Regions from separate parts of the Homo sapiens genome. Here all the other regions are linked to region 1. Evidence: fine-mapped expression QTL. A gene starts in region 1. Each other region holds a variant in brackets. All regions are shown on one strand. Distances are between the middles of the regions. Region 1 holds the start of IL36B (interleukin 36 beta). Region 2 overlaps IL36B (interleukin 36 beta). Region 3 has its middle 18 kb from the start of IL36A.

What was found. PIP is the estimated chance that this variant, and not a neighbour inherited with it, causes the effect. A credible set is the group of variants that fine-mapping cannot tell apart.
Region 2: its variant is the best candidate, but not a certain one, in a credible set for the expression of IL36B in sun-exposed skin (GTEx, PIP 0.70).
Region 3: its variant is the best candidate, but not a certain one, in a credible set for the expression of IL36B in unexposed skin (GTEx, PIP 0.54).

What each region holds. Positions count from the first base shown.
Region 1 is chr2:113,050,821-113,055,061 of GRCh38, forward strand. IL36B (interleukin 36 beta) reads right to left here and starts at 2,047. Exons shown (of 5, transcript NM_173178.3): 1 at 1,997-2,047.
Region 2 is chr2:113,029,854-113,034,094 of GRCh38, forward strand. It overlaps IL36B (interleukin 36 beta), which reads right to left. Exons shown (of 5, transcript NM_173178.3): 2 at 1,844-1,913; 3 at 1,195-1,302. The coding sequence starts at 1,856. Among named protein-coding and RNA genes, the nearest start is that of IL36B, 21 kb to the right of the region's middle. RefSeq lists a silencer at 4,239-4,241. The variant C/A (reference allele first, on the strand shown) is at 1,739.
Region 3 is chr2:113,021,369-113,025,609 of GRCh38, forward strand. It overlaps a transcript of IL36B not described here. Among named protein-coding and RNA genes, the nearest start is that of IL36A, 18 kb to the left of the region's middle. The variant G/C (reference allele first, on the strand shown) is at 2,390.

The DNA.
Region 1 (4,241 bases):
AGCCCTGGTGCAGCTCCCTTGCCTCGTCTAGTCCTGCTTTAGATGCTCGCTACTCGGGTGAGGGCTGCAGATCCTTGTGGAAAGAGACAGAAAAAGAGGAAGAGAGCTTGAATTGGAGGCCGTGCCTCTCAGCGTGGCCTCCCGATCCTTGAATCGGAGGCCGTGCCTCTCAGCCTGGCCTCCTGATCCTTGAATCGGAGGCCGTGCCTCTCAGCGTGGCCTCCCGATCCTTGAATCGGAGGCCGTGCCTCTCATCGTGGCCTCCCGACCTAGCCTGGTGGAGAGCGCCCCCTGCCGGTAGATCCTGGCCCGGCACACTGAGAGCGGCAGGCCCCGCCGGAGGGGCCAGCGCAGGACCGGGGAGAATGGAGCTCAGCCAGTGCCTAGCCCTGGGTTTATTTCCAGTTTCCTGCTGGAGAGCAATGGTCAAACTACACAGTCCGGCGGAGGCGAGTCCGCAGGCTCTGGAAGCCTCTGAGGCACAGACGAGGAAAGCGCCTGAATGTGGATCTGGGGTACAGAAGTTGCCGGTGGCTCTGGCCCTGTTCATGGGACTCAGTCAGCAGAAACTGTGGGTGTGACACACACCGGAGCCTCACCTGCCCTGTGGACTGCCCACACTCTCTCTCAGAGCCTCACCTGCCCTGTGGACTGCCCACGCGCTCTCTCAGATCCCGGCCTGTGCACCTGGCCCTTCCCCAGCCTCCCAGGCAGAGGGTGCCACGGGGCTGAGGGCAGGCAACAAAGCCACTGGCCTCTGGCTCAGCACCCAGCTGCAGCCCTGTGGATCCTGGCCCACAGCCTCCCCATGACTTCACTGGCATCCAGGGTTTCTCGAAAGCGCTATGAGCCAAGTGGTACCCTTCCCCTCTGATGTGGCTGGGTTGGAGAGGGAGTCCTGGATGCAGCTGGAGGTCCCCTTCTGCTCACGGCTCCCTGGAGGCTGTGTCTGTGCATGCACACCATCACTCCTACTCCAGGAAGGACTTTCACGGATGTCCTCAGCTACCAAAAGTCACTCCAGGGAGTGATAAATTCCGTCCAACCCAAAGTGTGCCACACTCTGCTATGGGGCACTCCTTTGTCTCTGCACCAACTCTGTTGGTTTCTATTATCTTCTCTCCCTCTCTCCTTTTTTTTTTTTTTGAGACAGAGTCTTGCTCTGTTGCCCAGGATGAAGTGCAGTGACATGATCTCAGGTCACTGCAACTTTCACCTCCTGGGATTCAAGTGATTCTCGTGCCTCAGCCTCCCAAGTAGCTGGGATTACAGGTGTGCACCACTATGCCCAACTAGTTTTTGTATTTTTAGTAGAGACGGGGTTTCTTCATGTTTGCCAGGCTGGTCTTGAACTCCTGGCCTCAAGTGTTCTGCCCGCCTCTACCTCCCAAGGTACTGGGATTACAGGTGCGAGCCACTGCACCTGGCTGGTTTCTATTATCTTCTTAGAAAGCCTGTTGGTCCTTTGTGCAGACTCCTTCATTCCCCCAGCCTCGAGCTCTGCCTTCTATTCCAAATGTGTGAATTTATAAGCATTACACAGCTTATTTTTCATATTGGGGAATGGGTGTGAATTAGTATGAAGTCAAGCTGCAAGAGTACCAATACCAGGTCCATCTCTTACTAGTTTTGTGACCTTAGGTGACTTAGCCTCTCTAATTTTCGTTTTGTCTTATCAGTTAAATGGGAATAAGCATAGCACTTACCTTAGAGGACTGATGTGGGAATGAGGCAACATAATAGCTATATTGCTTTTATCACTGTACCTGACAGAGTGAATGTGTAACAAACGTTAACCTTTCTTGTCAGCAAATTTAAAACCTCACAGCATATTCTGCACTCATTACGCCAGTCTGTTGGAGCTGAGTCCATGCCTTTTTCTCTCTGCGTTGGGAAAGCCATGCTAGCTACATGCATTTTTGGTCATGAACCAGTCTTAGATTTAAGTCAATGTAAATTTGGCCTTTGCCGTGTTCTTAATGTCTTCTTTACATACCTAGGAAAAGTGAAGGAGAGGTGAGAAAGACAGAGTGGGGAGGAACCCGTGTCTGTGGGTTTGTGCTAGATGCCAACCTGGCTCTTCACATCCTCTGTCTCATCCAGTCAAGCAGCCACACTGAGTCCCCCAGCATGAGAACAGCTTCCACAGAGCAGGAGATTCTGGGTCTGAAATGAGGAGAGAGCTCCAGTCCCACCAGTGCCCTAGAGCATACCTCAGAATGCTCCTTTCTCCTGGTGGGATCCGTGGAGTCTGCCTGCTCTTCCAAGGATGCCTCAGCCTTTTAAGTAAGGCCTAGGGAGGGGCCCTGAAACTACCAGGACCTGAGGAGAAGCAGGATTCTCAGCGTGATTTCACACCACCCTAAGCCGCCGGGAATACTTGCTGCTCATTATCTCTCTATTGGAGTCTCATGGAACACATTGTGGGAAGTGCTATAGAATTCTAGGGACATAGTGGGCACCAAGTGAATATCAGTTACTTTAATTATTACTAAATTTATCTCCCTAACAGGAATTTACTATCTTACCATAATAAACTCTGCTTACATTCTCATATAGGTGAATACACCTGCCCTAAGTCATCTCTACAGCAAGAGCAGAGGCCACATCTACCTCCAGGGTTATTGCCATTCTCACAAAGGTGAGGATAAGTCACCACAGGGAACATTGCTTCTCTGCAGGCTGTGACACTTTCCAGGGCATATAAAGCCCATGAAGAACTGAGATGTTTGCTGAGAAGAGAGCATACCCACCGAAGACAGTGGAAAATGAAAAAACAACAGGAGTAGAAACTTCCCAATAGTGATGTCAAACTGTATTAGTTACTAATTGCTGTGTAACAGCAAACCTAGCGACCTAAAACAAACAAAAAAATTATTTAACAAAGACAGAGTCGGGAATAAGAAAACTGGCTTGGCTGGAGGGTTCGGCTCAGGGTGTCTGATTAGGTTGTAGGAAAGATGTCAGCCAAGGTTTCAGTCATCTGAAGGCTTGACTGGGACTGAAGGATCTGTTTGTAAGATTGCTCACTCAGACCATTGGCAGGAAACCACAGTTTCTCACCATGTGGGCTTCTATATAGGGGTGCTTGAATATCCTTATTAGATGGCAGCTGGCTTCATCCAGGTGAGTGTTCTAAGAGCAAGGAGGAAACTGCAATGCCTTTTATGACCTGGTCTCAGAAGTGACATGCTGCCATGTTCACCATGTAACATACTCATTAGAAAAAAGTCACTAAGTCCAGTCCATACTCAAGAGAAGGGCAGTTAAACTTCCTCTCTGTATCAGTCTGTTCTCACACTGCTAATAAAGACATACCTGAGACTGAGTAATTTGTAAAGGAAAGAGATTGAATTGACTCACAGTTCCACATGGCTGAGGTGGCATCACAATCATGATGGAAGATGAAGGAAGAGCAAAGTCACATCTTACATGGCAGGAGGGAAGAGAGCTTGTGTAGGGGAATGCCCCTTTATAAAACCATCAGGTCTCATGAGACTTATTCACTAGAATGAGAATAGCACAGGAAAGACCTGCCCTGATGATTCAGTTACCTCCCACTGGGTCCCTTCCATGACATATGGGAATTATGGGAGCAACAACTCAAGATGAGCTTTGGGTGGGGACACAGCCAAACTATATCATTCCACCCCTGGCTCCTCGCAAATCACATGTCCTCACATTTCAAAACCAATCATGCCTTCCCAACAGTCCCCCAGGGTCTTAACGCATTTCAGCATTAACTCAAAATTCCACAGTCCAAAGTCTCATCTGAGACAAGGCAAGTCTCTTCTGCCTATGAGCTGTAAAATCAAAAGCAAGTTAGTTACTTCCTAAATACAATAGGAGTACAGGCATTTGGTAAGTACAGCTATTCCAAATGGGAGAAATTGGCCAAAACAAAGGGGCTACAGGCCCCATGCAAGTTCAAAATCCAGCGGGGCAGTCAAATCTTAACGCTTCAAAATTACCTCCTTTGAGTCTCTGTCTCACATCCAGGTCATGCTTATGCAAGAGGTGGGTTCCCATAGTCTTTGGAAGCTCCACTCCTGTGACTTTGCAGGGTACAACCCTCCTCCTGGCTGCTTTCATGGGCTGACACTGTCTGTGGCTTTTCCAGGCACACAGCATAAGCTGTTGGTGGATCTACCATTCTGGGATCTGGAGGACAGTGGCCCTCTTCTCACAGTTCCACTAGACAATGCCCCAGTGGGGACATTGTGTGGGGGCTCCCACCCCAC
Region 2 (4,241 bases), 21 kb before region 1:
TGGAGATTTCAGAGACAAAGGAGAGTCATAAAAGAAAATGCAAAAGAGGAGCCAGCAAACCTCATGAGAAGTAATATTCTAATAGAAGGAGAAGATGGGCCAGGTGCGGTGGCTCACGCCTGTAATCCCAGCACTTTGGGAGGCTGAGGTGGGCGGATCACGAGGTCAGGGGTTCGAGACCAGCCTGACCAATGTGGTGAAACCCCATCTCTATTAAAAATACAAAAATTAGCTAGGCACAGTGGTGGGCACCTGTAATCCCAGCTACTCAGGAGTCTGAGGCAGGAGAATTGCTTGAAACCTGGGAGGTGGAGGTTACAGAGAGCTGAGATCGTGCCATTGCACTCCAGCCTGGGTGACAGAGTGAGACTCCGTTTAAAAAAAAAAAAGGGAGAAGATGTAGAGTATTCAAGAAGGAAATGGTCCATTACACTAGTGAGCTAAGGGCCAAATAGCATGGGGACCAAGAAGTGTCCTTTGGGTTTGAGTATTTGAAGGTCATGGGTGAAATAGAAGGTTGGGGGGGAGTAGGAAGAGTAATCCAGATGTTAGACTGCAAATTATGCAGCCAGCTCTCGTGAAGTTTTGCTATGATTGGCACAAGAAAATGTGTTAGTAGGAGGAAAATGTGGGAATCAAGAGAAGGTTGCAGCATGTCTGACAATGATAGAAAGGGTCCAGTAAACAAAGGTGGAATTTGCAGGGAAGCGAGGAATTAAACATTGAAGTTCTGGATACAGGGAAAGAAGCTGAGATGGACTGACTTTTGATGGGAGAAAGGAATATTTCCCCATTATTAGAAAAGAGGATGCCAACTTAGAAAGCTGTGTAGGTTTGGTGGTGGAAAGATGACGGAGTTTGAATCTGAGGACACAGGTAGCAATGGTTGGAACCTGAAGGAGAGAAACTCCAAGGAGAAGGTTAGCTGTTGTTTGAATGGATAAGCCCTTCTAATCTGAAGATATTTTCTTTTGGTAAGAGGAGCTGTCAACCCTTCACACCCTCATTTCTAGATATGGGATTTCCTTTGTGGAAGGGAATCATAGTGTCCTTTCTCACTTGACCTTCCTGTGGCTGTTGGGCTGGTGCCTAGAAGTGGGTGAGGTCCAGGGCCAGGCTTATGCAAGCTCAGCCTCATTCCTGGTGAAGATGGCATCACCTCAAGAAGCAACAGTGGGTTTGATTGTCACTCACCAGGCTTAATGCTGCGGCTAAGAGGAGCTGCTATTAAAGAATTTCCACTCAGGACCCACACCATCTGTCGAGAATCACGAATAGCATAGGATTTGGGTGCTGCCTCCCCTGCCAGATGACAAAAATGCACAAAATACACGTGAGGTTATCAACTTCAGGACTCCAGTTGCATCCTGGTATTAATGGCTTTTGAGTTTCTGGAGAGAGTCTCATTGCTCTGAGAAGTAGTGGCTATAACGATAAATGGAGGGGAAATAGGGCAGGGACTAGTTTGTGAATCAAAGCATTTGAAAGGATCTACGTGCAGTCACAGTCCCAAGATTCACCTTTTTCTAGGGCTATTAGTGACTTGTCTTTTTCCGAATGATAAAATGTCTAGGTGGTAAAAAAAACCCCATAATATTTAAATTAGTTATCCATATGTTGTTTTTTAAAATCCTCTCATCAAAATAAACAAGCAATTCTAAATACAGATAATAATAAAAGAGCTAGGTGCCCCGAGATTTTCAAAGGCCGTTTTAGGAACTGAGTGTTTTAGCAAGAG[C/A]AAATACATTTATAGCTTAGCAAATGATAGGGGTCCTTCCATCCTATTGTCTTTGATGAGGTCAGATGGAGATATTTCCAAGCTGATTTGCAATTCACCACTTACGTTGTGGGTTCATGATGTCTTCAGAGCCTTTTGTGAAGAGAACAAGATAGATCAGATGGTGGTGAGGAGGCTGTTAACAGTTGGCCATGTGAGAGAAGGAGAGAAGAAACATGTTATGCTTTTTTCTCCTCTCCCCCTAAAATTTTACTGTAAAAATTCTTTAGAGAGAGCTGCCCTGAGAGCCTCTCCTAGATGCATATTTGAGAATAAGGATGGGTACAGGACATTTCAAGGCCAGAAAACCCTAAAAGGAAGCTCCCATCTCTGCTGTGGCTGGCACAGTCCTGCTTCTCTAGGCTGTGATGGTCTTGGTATGCTTTCCATTAATCACATCTGGGATTGTTAGGAGGTTCCAACACATCACCACGGGCACCTTCTAGTACTCTGAGTCTCTGGGTTGAGAGGAAGGAGGGAGAGACAGAGTGCGTGTGTGTGTCTGTGTGTGTGTGTGTGTGTGTGTGTGTGTGTGTGTGTATCTCCATTTTAGCCCTCCACACAGCAGGTTAATCACCACTTTTCCTGACTTGAAGCTGAACACTCCTAAGTAATTTGTAGCTAACCTGCCTCACTGAGCCCATCTTCTTCCATTCCTCATCCAAAGAGACATCTGTAAGGATCATGCACATGGCCACTGAGGGCCCCACAAGGTGCTTTGACTATTAGGGATCATCTGCCTCTGGTTTTCTAGTTAGGGCACCAGAACAGTCCCCAAGAATATCACAGACACTCCACAATGAGAACCAGTTGTTCACAACCCTCCTTCTCTCAGGATCCTTGATGTGTGATTCAATAGTTGTCCCTACACAGTGGATAAGCAGATCACCAACCTGCACCCTTGTAAGCAGCCCTGGATCCTTCAGTACTCTGTACCTTTGACAAGACTCCCAGAGGCACTTCGAGGCTAAACACAGAGACATGAAAGAAGTTCCCCATACCTGGGTTCTAAGCAGCAGAAGTTACCTTTAGCAAGAGATGCTTTTGTCCCTCGTTTCAAAGTCAAGGCTCTAGTTGCATGTAAGTGGTCTAGCTGCATGAAAAGCTGGTCCAGGACTCCCAGGCCCCTTAATGACCAAGGAAAGAGCATTCTTTCCTGCCCCTGGGTGTGTTCATTTTGGAAAGAAAGCTGATATGGCCCAAAGATCTCTTGAGGCTCTGGAGGACTGACAGTGGAGCAACACAAGCATGACTGGTCTGTGCTTCCTGATTAACAAGAGCAGAGGCAACATCAGAAAACAGCAATGAGGAAATGCGGATTAGGCCAGATGCTGAGTTGAGGAGAGTGCCTTTACTGGTCTTCCTTGGAGGCAGAGGTGTGTCTCCCTTGGAGGCAGAGGTGTGGCTCTCTTGACCCACTAAACTGCATGAAGCCATTGCTGTGTTTGCATCTGATGTTAGGCCAATCACAGTACTCCTTGCAGGAGTTTTACACACCCACCATGTCACATTTATATGGTACAAATATTGAGAGCTTATTCTGTTTCTGCTAAAGTTGTAAGAGCTTTACCTGAGTAACCTTTTAATCTTCACGCTACATTTACTTTTTTTTTGGAGATGGAGTCTCGCTCTCGCTCTGTCGCCAAGCTGGAGTGCAGTGGCACGATCTCGGCTCATGGAAACTTCCGCCTCTCAGGTTCAAGTGATTCTCCTGCCTCAGCCTCCCGAGTAGCTGGAACTACAGGCACCCACTGCCACACTGGGCTAGTTTTTTGTATTTTATATTTCAGTAGAGAAGGGGTTTCACTGTGTTGCCCAGGCTGGTCTCAAACTCCTGAGCTCAGGCAGTCCACCCGCCTCGGCCTCCCAAAGTACTAGGATTACAGGCGTGAGCCACTGCACCCGTCCCACACACAACTCTTTAGGGGCCATTAATTTTATTTCTCATGTAAGAAAACAGCGGCTCTGAGGGATGACAGAATGTACCCAAAGTCATACAGCTACTAAGAAATCTAGCCAAGTTAGAAGCCAAGTCTCTCTATTCTTAATGATTATGTGACATGCCTCCCCTGGGTCATAGTCTCCTGCATACTGCACTAGCCGGAACACAGTCTTGCATTCAGTTGAGGATACTGAAAAATCTATAATGTGTCCAGGAGAGGAGAGGAGAGAACTTGGAGGTCTTGTGGCTTTCTAACTCTGAATTAGGAGTCAGACGCGGCTTCAATGTTGGCTATGAAAGAAAATCATTACTCTTGAAACCGAATATTATTGGTCAGTCCTACTCCCAATCACTCTTTGTGGTTCTGCTCTTGGAAATCCACCATTGACTCTATCTTCTGGAGCATTGCAATAGTCTCCTTGCTTCTGTTCTTACCTCCCTAGAGTCAGATGTCCACCTAGCAGTGACCAGAATCAAAGATGTAAATAAAGTCGTATGACTCTCTTGCACAGAACCCTCTAA
Region 3 (4,241 bases), 29 kb before region 1:
AAAATATGTATTTTATTATTCCAGTTAGAGAAACATGCACTCACATGGACACATACATACAGATGCACAGGGGTACACATAAGACAACATTGTATGCTTCCAATAGAGCCTATGAGTACGTAAATGCATAAGAAATAGCCAGAGTGACACCAATTCATAACAGTGGTTACCATTGGGGTGGAGAAAGAGGAACTAGGATCTGGGGGGAAAGAATTTGGATTTATCTGGTATATTTTAACTTTATTTCAAGATGAATGTGTCGATGTATTAATAACTGAAAAATTAACGTTTTTAAAAGTGAAAAGTGTAAACAGCATGTGAAGAAAGTAGCTTTAGCAGAGGCTGTGTTTCTCAAATGCTGTGGTCCCCGTTATGTTCTGTATGCTTGAAAATTTTCTGATACAATAGCTAGGTGTTGTTCTGAGCAAATCAGTGGATGAAAGAGTGGATACCCAGGGTGGCTACTCGGTGCCTACAGTAGGAGGCCTAGACTATTACTATTCCATTGTAAGAAACAACTGACTGTCTTTTCCATGGCTATAATCCCTAACTTTTTGTTGCTGCATCTTTTGGGAGAAAAAGACTCACTGGGATCCTATTACATAGGAATGGAAATATATGGTTCTGCCTATGGTAGATAAAGAGCAGCCCACATGGGAGTTAAAGGCAAATGGATGAAGAAAAATAATATACTATAAAAATAATATCATATAGACTTGATTACATGGGAAAAACTAGTTTATTTTACCAGTGTAAGATTATAGAATTTTTAAGAAGAAATGTCTTTCAATTACTTTTAATTGTATGTGTTCCTTTTAAGTTATACATACTAAACAGAGCGTTTCACTCCTCATGCTCTAGTGAATAATTGCACATTATGTAAATAATTTTGAATAATTCTGCTGTTTCTTCCATAGGACTTAACCCCTGTACATCAGGAAAAGAAATAACAGATTGAGCTCTAGTAGCTTGCTGCTCTGTGGGAATTCAGGAGCAATGTTGTCTGATCTTCCCATTTTTCATGAAAACCTTGACTTTACAATTTTTTAAAAAACACTCTAAGGACTGGACAAAACACATTTACAGGTTATGTAGTCCAAATCTACTCCTAAAAAGACTCCGACCTTCTCTAGCTTTACAGGTAAGATTTACCAACTCTTTAAAAATACATAGTGTCCTTGTTTTACAAACTCTCCAGAACCCAAGAAAAGAGAAAAATTTCTGCAACTTATTCCATTTGTAGCATTTCATTGATAGCAAACCCACTCAAAGATTGTAGAGATGGGAATCTTCCTCCCCTTATTTCTACATCCTTCCTGGCATTCCTATGTTGGTCCGCATGGATGAGAAATCTTTGTCCTTCTTCCTGAGATGGTGATGTTGAAAGGAACTCTTCCACTTCTTTCTACCTGCAGGAAAGGAGAAGTATCTCCTAGGCTTAGCAAGATGTGGACATTTGCTAAACCACCAATTGAATAGGGGCTAAAAGGGCAGATTCTACACGGAGGCTCCTGGAGGAGATTGGAGTTTGCCTTCCTCTCAGCCTTACTCACTTGATTCTGCTGAAGAGTGATGGATTATTACAGTGACTGGAGAAAATGAAATTAGAGTTGGTGGGCATGGTTTTTGCCCCAAAAGTCTAGATTGAGGCCCCAGAAGACTAAGAGGCACCCCTCACTTCCCTAATCCAGCTGTAACAATAATAAAGGCACTGCTATGATTTTGATTTTGGCATCAACATAGTTTCTAAATGTTTGAACGTGGATGGCGATTGGAAGGAGGGACTGTTACCTACCAACCTTCAACATTTAATGTCAGTTCCATAAGGATGGCCATATTTTCCCCTTTTTGTTTACTACTATGTCCCCAGCACTTAGAACAGCATAGGTGCTCAAAACATATTTGTTGAATAATTCAGATTATTGATCCTGACACTTCCTTTGAGATAAAAACAAGCTTTGTTGTTTGGGGTTCAAACTACATGGTGAGTTTGGAGAAGACATTGCTAGTGGCTTTGGCCTTGGTCAGTTAGATGTGGCTTTTATTATGGCCACACTGCTATTATAGGCATAGATAAAACTGATTTTAGTGAACTAGAGCTGTAATCTGCAAAATTTAACCTGCTAAACTGTACGAGCAATAGAGAACATCAGTGTATGGTTTTTGATCTTTTGATGGTTGCTATTAGATATTGGGAGGTGGCACTCTGTCAGCTGCACAGTCTTTGCTAGTCTCTGTCTCATTTTTAATTGCATCCTTAGTTAAGGAGACAACCATTAAGGGAATGACATTATGGGTTTCCATGTAGTTTATTCACTTATTTCTGGTGTTACTTCCCAACCATACGGCCTAGAGTTGACTTTGAAGTATTCTTTTTATAATCAGAAAT[G/C]TTCTACTTGTAAGTGACTCAAACTAGTAAGGTAGTTAACTGATCAGTTCTTTAACTGCATATTTATCTCCCCTCCTTTCTTGTTGATAACCCGTGTTGTTTTCTTGCCCCTAATTCACATTAGATCATCAACAACGTTAAAATAAACTTATTGACCTAAGTGAGAGACAAAGATTCTCAGTTGCAAGCTTATAGAGCTTTTTACATTTTCTCTTCTGAAGAATAAAGGAAACTGAAGTGGAGGGAAGGACAGGGCAGATATGCATGCTGATGGAAATTGAAGAGAAAGATGGGTGGAAGCATGTAGGGATCTCTGAAATGGACGTGCATTCATTTAGGTTTCTGAATAGAAGAGATTCAGGGGACAAACTATCTTTGAGTGTCACACGGGTAAACTCCCTCTCTACCACCCTGTGAAAAACCCACCATTCAATAGTCCTGGGCCTGAGGACCGTGACTCTTGCTTAAGAAAGCAACAAAAGCATCAACACCTCCGTGAATATTAGAGTATCTCATAGGCTGGAAAAAAAAGGTCATAGGAACTAGTGCTTCAGAGACTGGAACAGGGGGAATAACACTGTGCTCTTTCTCCATTTATCGATATTCTATTTCGTGTGTGTGTGTTTATGTTGGCCTTATTTTTTCCATACTACAGATAGACAAGGAATTAGCCTACCTCCTTGCAAGGCTTAGGAAACCCACATTGTTTGGGAAGTGCCTTCTGATACTGATTGAACAGAAATCTGTCATCCCGTGCCTTCTCCTGTGGTTCTTAGATTTAAGCAAAGAACATCACAGCTCTCGATCCAGGAGAGCAAATAAAATATTTGAGGACACCTCTTGAGTCTTTCTGTGGTTTCTCCTCCTCTTCTTCCTCCTTCACCATCACAATGTCCTCACTCCTCTGGCAGAGGGCACAGGTGGTGTGATGTAAGATGGGCTGGCTGTCTATCTCTTGCTCATGTTCAGTGCCCTTGGAATAGCTGGGAAGCTGATATTTATAAGCACTGTCCAGGATTACATTGCATTTTTCATCACCATCTTCCTATAGATTCTTTCTGCACATTTAGCTATTTACAGAACTCACATTCTTTGCAGCCCTTCTCAGAAAACCTATGTACTACGTATCCAAGTACATTGTTGCAAGTCTCTCATGGCCATCCTTGAGGCCATTTGTGCTTAGTCATGACCTTGTCAGAGAAAATATTTGCAATGGTGAATTTCCCTGGGCTCCTTCTCTTGTGCCCCTATGCTGTTGTGCATATGCATAAATACATGTGGGGAAAGGCTTGGACAAAATGCAAACCCTCAGACTGTGCACCGAGCCCTCCAAGAGGGAGGCAGAGGATACTGGCTAAAAGCTCCTGGGGATACCCTTGGTTATGTTTCATTTCTGCAGCCATCTCCTCCCGAGTGGATGCCCTTGTATCATCACATTCCCCTGGAGCCATATTGGCATAAGGGGAAGAGGAGGAAGAATTGAGACAGGGAAATTTCTGAGCAGCCTTTCTATGTTTTTCCTCTCCATATTCTGTGAGAAGCTTTCCAGTTCCTTGGACCCTTCTTGAAGTTGAGGACTGCCCTGATATAATGCAAGATTCTCCCTGACACACTTTGGTATTAATGGGAAGATGCTAATACATGAAATGAAAATTAATTTGCTTCAACAGTGCATTCTGAGAAACTGCTAAGAGGGAGGGAAGATTTGGTATCTAAAGGGAGTGCATAAATGAAAGAGACAAATTTCTGCCTCTATGTACCTAGAATTTGGTTGACGAGAAGAGAGCAAATGGGCCAAGACAAGGAGAAGAAGCTATAGCACAAAGCCTAAGAAAATAAATGTTCCATGAGA